Linked DNA regions of Homo sapiens: region 2 is linked to region 1. Evidence: fine-mapped expression QTL. A gene starts in region 1. The other region holds a variant in brackets. All regions are shown on one strand. Distances are between the middles of the regions. Region 1 holds the start of NADK (NAD kinase). Region 2 overlaps GNB1 (G protein subunit beta 1).

The links. PIP is the estimated chance that this variant, and not a neighbour inherited with it, causes the effect. A credible set is the group of variants that fine-mapping cannot tell apart.
Region 2: its variant is the best candidate, but not a certain one, in a credible set for the expression of NADK in whole blood (TOPMed, PIP 0.51).

What each region holds. Positions count from the first base shown.
Region 1 is chr1:1,776,299-1,780,687 of GRCh38, forward strand. It overlaps NADK (NAD kinase), which reads right to left and starts at 2,172. Exons shown (of 12, transcript NM_023018.5): 1 at 1,991-2,172. RefSeq lists a silencer at 1,688-2,887 and enhancers at 3,948-4,117, 4,128-4,187, 4,198-4,267, 4,278-4,377.
Region 2 is chr1:1,815,129-1,819,517 of GRCh38, forward strand. It overlaps GNB1 (G protein subunit beta 1), which reads right to left. Exons shown (of 12, transcript NM_002074.5): 4 at 2,709-2,747; 5 at 628-734. Among named protein-coding and RNA genes, the nearest start is that of NADK, 39 kb to the left of the region's middle. The variant CATT/C (reference allele first, on the strand shown) is at 1,879.

The DNA of each region.
Region 1 (4,389 bases):
TCTGGGACACCCTCACTACAAGGATTTATGAGTCAAACAGGTTTTTGTGCTAGCCTGGAAATCTAACTGCTGACAGCAGTTGTTTCAAGAAGAAAATGCTGTTTTGGAACCAAACAGCAGGCTGCCAACTGAAACAACATAAACCCACCTCCAAGTTCAAATGAAACAAACAAACAAAAAGACTGGTCCAAGTGAGGCAAGCTGTGGTGGCTCACACCTGTAATCCCAGCACTTTGGGAGGCCAAGGTGGGCTGATCACGAGGTCAGGAGTTCGAGACAAGCCTGGCCAACACAGTGAAACCCGTCTCTACTAAAAATACAAAAATTAGCTGAGCGTGGTGGTGGGCGCCTGTAATCCCAGCTACTCAGGAGGCTGAGGCAGGAAAATCACTTGAACCCGGGAGGTGGAGGTTGCAGTGAGCCGAGATTGTGCCACTGCACTCCAGCCTGGGCAACAGAGCTAGACTCTGTCTTAAAAAAAAAAAAAAAAAAAAAAGACTGGTCAAAGTGGCTTACGTCTGTAAGATCAGCACTTTGGGAAGTGGAGGCAGGAGGATCTCTTGAGGCCAGGAGGTTGAGACTAGCCTGGACAACACAGTGAGACTCTATCTCTACAAAAAATTTTATAAATCAGCTAGGTGTGGTGGTGCAGGCCTGTAATCCCAGCTACTCAGGAGGCTGAGGTGGGAGGATCAATTGAGCCCAGGAATTTGAGGTTACAGTGAGCTATAATCATGCCACCATAAACACGCCTGGAGGACAGAGTGAGGCCCTGTTTCTAACATACACACACATATACACACAGAAACATCTCGAGAGGACACCTCCAAATGATGAAGCTATTTTGTTGGGTACTGCGGTGGCACCTGTGATTCCTCAAGTAGCTTGGAATCAGCGTGCTAACACCATAAAGTGGCTGCAAAAGTCCCAGTGAAGTCACTGCTGAGAGCAAACAGGCCTTACAGAGAAGTTCCAAGGGGACAGGAAATTTCCAGAGGCTTGAGAGGACAATGTTCAGGGGAATAAGTACTTGAAGGGAATTATCTAACAAGGTGTTAAAGTAACTAGCTTCTTAGACAAGATGACATCAGGAGGAAAAAAAAACTTATTAAGGCAAACATGTCAGTTTCAGGCCAACTAAGGCTGTCAGAGAGACATGGAACACAAGAAGAGAAGAGTTTTGAAATGTATTCCCATCAAGAGCCAAGAATAATGAACTTTTGAATGTAAAACTTAGTGTGTTCCAAAACAAGAAAGGAAAAATAACTTGTTACTCGGAATCGAAGCCAAAAGGAATCTCATTGCTTGGGGAGGAGGGATGGGAGGGTGGGGGTGGTCCTTGGCCTGGGAAGGAAAACTCCACCAGGCCTTCGGAGCTGGGCACGCCCTGTTCCCACAATTAAGAAAAAAAACGACGACCTAGAGCTCAAGGCCGGTGCTGACATCTGACCTACTGGATGGCAGCCGCCTGTAGGAACATCACCATAGACTATTGGAATTTTCTGGCAAGTACTGGGCACTAAATCAGAGATGTGTTTTTAGAGAATTCCATGCCAATACTGCTGTATAGAATCTTTTATTCATACTTTCCCACTAGGTTTGGGCCCCTCTAAGCTTTCACGAGTCAAAGACCCCTCCTGCTTGCTGAAACCACCCACGGAAGGCCGGACACCGAGGACCTGGCCGCCCAAGCAGAGGCGACTGACAAGCGCGGTCCGGGCTGGACGGCCCCACCTTCCCCGCCCGGGAGAGCCAGGCCGGACAGCGGCCTCCCTCAGACCCGTCCCCAAGGCCGAGCCTCGCCCTGGGCCGTGCTGGTGCCCCATTCGGGACGGAGCGGTGGCCCGTCAGCACTTCCACGGCCTCCTCAGCAGGCCAGATGGGCAGGGCCGGCCTGGTGTCTCCCCGCCTGGCCGCGCGCTCGCGGGCAGCGATGACCCCAGGCAGCGGGCGACCCCAGGCGGACGGCAGGCCGGGTCTGCTCACTCACCGTTCGCTGCCGCGGGCGCCTGCGGGGGCGTCTACATGCCGGACCGAGCCCGCAGGCCCCGCCGCCGCGCCGCCGCCAGCCGTCGCTACCTGGCCCTTGGCGCCCTGGCCGCCTGTTGCCCCATGGCCGCCCGGACCCCGGCGCCGGCGCCGCCGAGCAGCAATGCGCCGCGCCCGCCCACTGCGCAGGCGCACCCGCCACGCATGCGCGCTGCCGCGCACGTGGGGCGTCCCGCGCGTCTGCCGGGTCCCACCGGCGCCGGGACACCCCGCGCGGGCGGGAGGCGGCGGGCGTGGCGGGAAAGAGGCGGGCGGTGGGGAAGAGGGGCGAATCGCGGTGGAGAGCAGTGACCAGGGAGTGGAGGCGGGCAGCGGGGACAGGGGCGGGCGTCCGCGACTCGGGTAGGCGGGGGTCGGCGCCCCGAGGAGGGCGGCCCCCGGCTCCCGTCCCCACTCACCTGCCGCGTCCGGAGGGCGCCCCCGGGTCCGCCCGCCACGTCTACGCCTAGGCGCCCCCGACATTGTGATCCCAGCCCGGCGTCCCGCCCCCAACTCACCGCCACCGCGGGCGGGACCTCCCGGACCACGTGGGCCGGCTCAGGGGAGTGCAGGTGCCCCGCGAGAGCTGGCCCCGCCCGCCGCCGCTTCCCTAATTACCGGGCTGTGACACGGTGTGGGCCGAGCCGGATTTGGGAACCGAAACTTAGAGCAGCTGCGGCAGCGCTGCGCTCCCTCGGGGCTGTCCGTCGGGGCTGGGAGGGCGGCCCTGCGCCTGGGGGAACCGCGATCGGCCTCACGCCCACCTCTAGCGGCCAGGTGCGCCTTGCACGCCCACGAACGTCCTCAGAGGTCTACGCTTGGGATCCCAAGGCTGGCAGTGGAGGGAGGACCCGGTGGCCTGGGGCACCTCTAGGGGGACCAGGGAGCCGTGTTTTGCGCACCCCACAGGCTGGAGGACTCGGGGAGTTGGGGGAGGAGGCCAAAGCCACAGGAGCGGACTTTGTAGTGTTTGTTGGAACTGCGGGTCCCACCCAGCCCGCACTTGCTGAACTGGTGGCTGCTCATCAGCGCCTTCAGGCCTCAAATATCCCAATAATGTGCCCTATACCCAGTTCTCAGCTCTCGAGTCACTGTCAGGTAAACTGGCAATGCACGACCAGCTGCTCTAACCTGCTGGTCCCCCAGGTGCCAGACATTGTTTTGTTTTTCTGAGATAGTGTCTCATTCGTCCCCCAGGCCGGAGTCCAGTGGCGGGCTCACGGCTCACTGCAGCCTTGACCTCTCAGGTGCAAGCGATCCTTCCACTTCAGCTTCCCTAGTAGTTGGGACTACAAGTAGGTCCCGCCACACTCGACTACTTCATTCATATATATATATATTTGTGTGTGTGTGTGTGTGTGTGTGTAGAGATGAGGTTTTACCATTTTGCCCAGGCTGGGTCTCAAACTTCACCCGCCTCGGCCTCCCAAAGTACTAGGATTATAGGCGTAAGCCACTGCACCTGGCCCAGCCATTGTTTTCTGAGGTTCAGTCCCTGTCTATACTTTCTGTGTGATCACCTGGCCCAGGGTCGGTGTGGACCTGAGTCCTCTGCAGCCCTTCCCCACACCCGCATACCTGCTCTCTGGTCAGGACTCCTGGGACTTGAATCCAGAGACACGGAACACGGCCTGGCCAAGTCTTCCTGAAAAACACAGCTCTTCAGTTCAGGACCACAGTGAAGTACAGGGCACCAAGGGTGACTGGAAAGGGAAGCAAGGATCATGAGAACTTGGGGGATTTCTTAAGCTCTGTAACTTCTCCCGGGGTTATTTTGCAAACCCAACTGTTTCAAAGTGACCACCAGCCACACCCACAGAAGCGGCCTTGAGCTGCCCAGTTCTTTTTCTTTGGCGGGGGGAGAGGGGGCGGATAAGATCATTAACATAATAATGCGTGAGCTGAGTTTTTGCATATGATCATTAGCATAATAATGCTTGATCTAGATGGCGCACCCACAAGCCAGGCACTGAGCCAGGCCTCAGTAGAATCTTCTAGAGTGGAGGCAGTCAACTGCTTCTGCAGAGGCAACCAGTGACTGTCGTGGGCCCCAGGTCACACAGCAGGTGCCCTTCGCGTGTCCCGCTGTGTAGGGAGCTCCAGCAGCTGCCCCGTCTGTGGCATGAAAACCCTTTGTCTACCCTGGGCCTGGGCACTGCCTGCAGGAGAGCTTCCCTGTTTCAGAGATGAGAAAACAAAACCAGGGCTGTGGTTTCCTTCAGCTGACAGGTTGTGCAATTTCTCAGGGCAGGCCCCGGATATGACCTTGAAGATTCAGGGGCCAAGATCTCACACCCACACCTCACCCCAGGCCTGGCCAGCAATAACTAAGACCAAAGCTGGGAAGGCTCCTTAGGGCAC
Region 2 (4,389 bases), 39 kb after region 1:
AGAGAAAAGAAAAGAACAAATAGGAGCCCATGAAGGGAATTATCTCTTGGGATGGTAAACCAAAGGAAGGCAGGGCAGACAGGCCAGATGAGAGAATGGTGAGAGCAGCTCACAGCGCATTCCCGTGTGTCTGCCGCAGCAAAGCACACACAGCACAATGCTGTTCTAAGGCTCAATACACTTAATCCCTCAGGATCCTCGGGGCAGGTTCTGTGATTTCCTGAGCCAGGGCACTGACATCACAAGAGGGCGAGGGCCAACCAGCCCTGAGAAACAGGCACAGAGAGGTAACTTCCCCAAGTTCACATAAGTAGGATGCAGTAGAACTGGGAAGACAGAGGTCTAGAAACTGAAAGAGACAGGAGAAGGGAGAAAGAAAAATCAGAACTTGTATTAATGTGATTCAGACAGTGAAGAAATGGCAGTGTTCTTTCAGCCCAGGTAAGTGGAAAACTGGACAGGGAATATGCACCTGTGAACGCTGCACCTTGCGTGCCCAGAGTTCTGATTCAACTTCCTAATTTCTTCACTGCACAGCACAGCAAATGGGTTCAGGTACTTTTCCCCTAGGACAACAGAGCAGCCCCTGAATGTAACAAGCAGCATCCTGCTCATGCCCACGCCTACCTGGAGTCTGTGCCCCAGTGCATGGCGTAGATCTTGGCCAGGTGCCCCCGCAGTGTCCTCCTCGTGCGCATTTGGATTCTTCCCACTGGGTCGATGTTGTTTGTGATCTTGAAAATAAAAACATTTCTGTAAATCAACATCTGTGATTAAACGATTCTCCTCATCACCCATCCTTGTCAAGGCTGTTGGCTCGCCCACTGTGCCTACCTCTTCCCAGCCCTTCCCACAGTTCTCCAGTGGCTTCCACTGTGGCATTCTGCACTGAACCCCTTCCGTACCTCTTACCAAGTCTCAGTCTGGCTGGTCATCAGGAACCTGTGTGCCCTGCCCTCCAATGCACGCACACGAACATGGCCAGCCTTGAAGCACTTGCTGTTCCCTTCCTGCTTCCTTCCTCCTCTCCCTGTCCATCCAGGACCATCTCCTCCTAGGTCTCTGAGTTCTTTGAGATCTCGCAACTCTTCTTATGACACCACACAGATGTCCCACACCACAATTTAATAGCTGGTTCCTATGTCAGGCTATGTGTGGGCCTGCATGACACCTGCTTCTGCACGACCATCACTTGGAGCACCAGCTGTACACACACCTGCTGAGCCCATCCTACATATAGACACTGATGTTAATGAGTTTAGGTTGGCAAACGGAGTAAGTGGATTACAATAGTGGGTTTTAAAAACGGACAGTCCAAAGTGCTTCTCAGAATTGAAATTCAGGTAATTCTATGTAGCCTAATTTTTTTTTCTTTAACTTACAATTTAACCTCAATTAAAGCACATCCCCTAAAGCATTTAGACAATGTAAAAAACTTAATCATCTTCAGTAGAAGTAGGAATATAGTTTTTCTTTCACATTTCTGTCCAATTATTTGGACTTTATTTTTATTATCTTTTTTTTTTTTTTTTTTTTTTAAGATGGAGTCTCGCTCTGTCTCCCAGGCTGGAGTGCAGTGGTGCGATCTCTGCTCACTGCAACCTCTGCCTCCCGGGTCCAAGCAATTCTCCTGCCTCAGCCCCCTGAGTAGCTGGGATTACAGGTGTGTGCCACCATGCCTGGCTAATTTTTGTATTTTAGTAGGGACAGGGTTTCACCATGTTGGTTAGGCTGGTCTCGAACTCCTGACCTCAAGTGATCCACCTGCCTCGGCCTCCCAAAGTGCTGGGATGGACTTCATTTTTTTAATAAGGTGAAGTTCACGTAACATCCAATTAATCACTTTAAAGTCTACAGTTCAGTGGCATTTAGTACACT[CATT/C]GTTGTAAAACCACTGCCACCATCTAGTTCCAAACCATCTTCCAAAAGGAGACCAGACATTGATTCAGCAGTCACTCCCTGTTCACTTCCTCTCCCTCTCTCCCCTAACACCCCTGCTGGCCACTAGTCCACTCTGTCTCAGTGAATGTTACTATTCTAGATATTTCATATAAATAGAACTAAACAATACATAGCCATTTGTTTGGCTTCTCTCACTATCGTAATATTTATGGGGTTTATCCACGTTGCAGCCTCTGACTGTACTGACGTCCATTTAATGGCTGATAATACTCCAGGGCACAGAGACACCACAATTTGTTTCTCCACTCATTCATTTATGCACATTTTGGTTGTTTCTACATTTTGGCTATTGTGAATGGTGCTGCTATGTACATGTGTGTGTTTGAAAAGCAGTGTTCAATCCTGTTGGGCATATATTTAATGGCAGAACTGCTGAGTCATACAATAATTCTATGTTTAACTTTTTGAGGTATTATCAAATTGGATATTAGAAATAGAAGTTCTGAGGCAGATTCTGTTGAGGAGAGGAGCTTCAAAATATCTTAAGACAATAACAATATTTTACAACTATTACCCTCTGTAACAGGTAGATGATTATTCAAGGCTTGAGATATCTCATTTTTATCTCAATAAGCCCCTCTATTTCCTATGCCTACCATCAGAATGACTTCTTAATAAAAGCAGTGGCTTGGCATCCTCACTGCGCAACAGAGAATGCAAGCAGAGCCCTCCCGAGGCTCCAGGTGTGGGTGCCGTGCTAGCCTCCTCACAGGCAGATGGCTCTGCGTGACTCAGTGGGCTCTTACCTGAGAGAGAGTTGCATCTGCACATGCTTTCCTGGCGTCCTGGGAAGCAAGGACAGTGAGAAATTAGCAACCTTTCAGATACATTCAATCTCAGGTCCACACATACCAAAGTTTCAAAGAGAGCTTTCCTAAGCTGTCAGGAGCAAAAGCAGAATGTGAAAGAACGGCAGAGTCTCCTTGCATCTCAACACCCCATGGTCTACTACCATCTGTGGACTGTCCAGGCCACGCTGAACAGAGAACCAGTAGTACCCAAATCTGTCTAAGACCTGCAGCACAATATTCCTGGGGACCCACAGCTGTGGCCAGCACCGAGGAGACCACACTGCAAGCTGGGGCAGCACCCACACACCCGGGACCCTGGTGCTGCCTGTGCCCTCACTGCTGCACAGGCTGGCACACACGACTTGCTCTTTTTACAAAGCCCATCTAGGGTCAGGAAGGCTGTGGCCCAAAGAAAAGGTCTATTAAAAAAAAAAAAAAAAAAAAAAAAGTCTAAAAAGGACCAGATACCCAGCCCAAAAAAACTTTTCTTCAGACTGCATTAACTAAGTACTTTGTTTTCAAGAGAAACAATCATTAATTCTAAATTCTATGGAGGGCGCGGTCTCACGTCTGTAATCCTAGCACTTTGGGAAGCTGAGGCAGGAGGATCTCTTGAGCCCATGAGTTCAAGACCAGCCTGGGCAACAAAGTGAGACCTTGTCTCTACTAAAAATAAAAATTAAAAATTTAAGGAAAATAGGCTGGGTGTGGTGGCTGACACCTATAATCCCAGCACTTTGGGAGGCCGAGGTGGGTGGATCACCTGAGGTCAGGAGTTCAAGACCAGCCTGGCCAACATGGTGAAACCCCATCTCTACTAAAAATACAAAAAATAGCTGGGTGTGGTGGCGCACGCCTGTAATCCCAGCTACTCAGGAGGCTGAGGCAGGAGAATCACTTGAACCCGGGAGGCGGAGGTTGCAGGGAGCCGAGACTGCGCCACTGCACTCCAGTCTGGGAAACAGAGCAAGACTCCATCTCAAAAAAAACAAAAATAATAATAAAATAAAATAAAGGAAAACAAAGAAAAATAAATAAATTCTATGGAAAACGAGCAAGGGACCTGGAGCCAGACAATCAGATGTACATGAGCCTCTTGGCTGTTCTCGTTGCTCATCTACAAATGACCTGCGGCTGCAGGTAGGCACTGTGAAGGGATCCACCAATGCTAACTCAAGTGTCTTCATTACTAAGGGATCAAAGTTACTAGAAAATAGACCTGGAAATCTCAAAAGAGAACGTACGTTTAGAAATAGAAAGGTACGTAACATGAAGGAAAATAAGACAATGGCTAACAGGTTTAAAGTTTGAGTGTTGGTATAATTTTTTTTTTAATCACAACTATTTTTTTTTTTTGAGACAGAGTCTCGCTCTGTCTTGCCCAGGCGGGAGTGCTGTGTCGCGATCTCAGCTCACCGCAGCCTCCGCCTCCCAGGTTCAAGTGATTCTTCCCGTCTCAGCCTCTTGAGTAGCTGAGACCACAGGCGTGTGCCACCACACCGGCTAATTTAGTATTTTTAGTAGAGATGAGGTTTCACCATATTGGCCAGGCTGGTCTAGAACTCCTGACCTCAGGTGATCCGCTCATCTCAGCCTCCCAAAGTGCTGGGATTACAGGCGTGAGCCACCCCGCCTG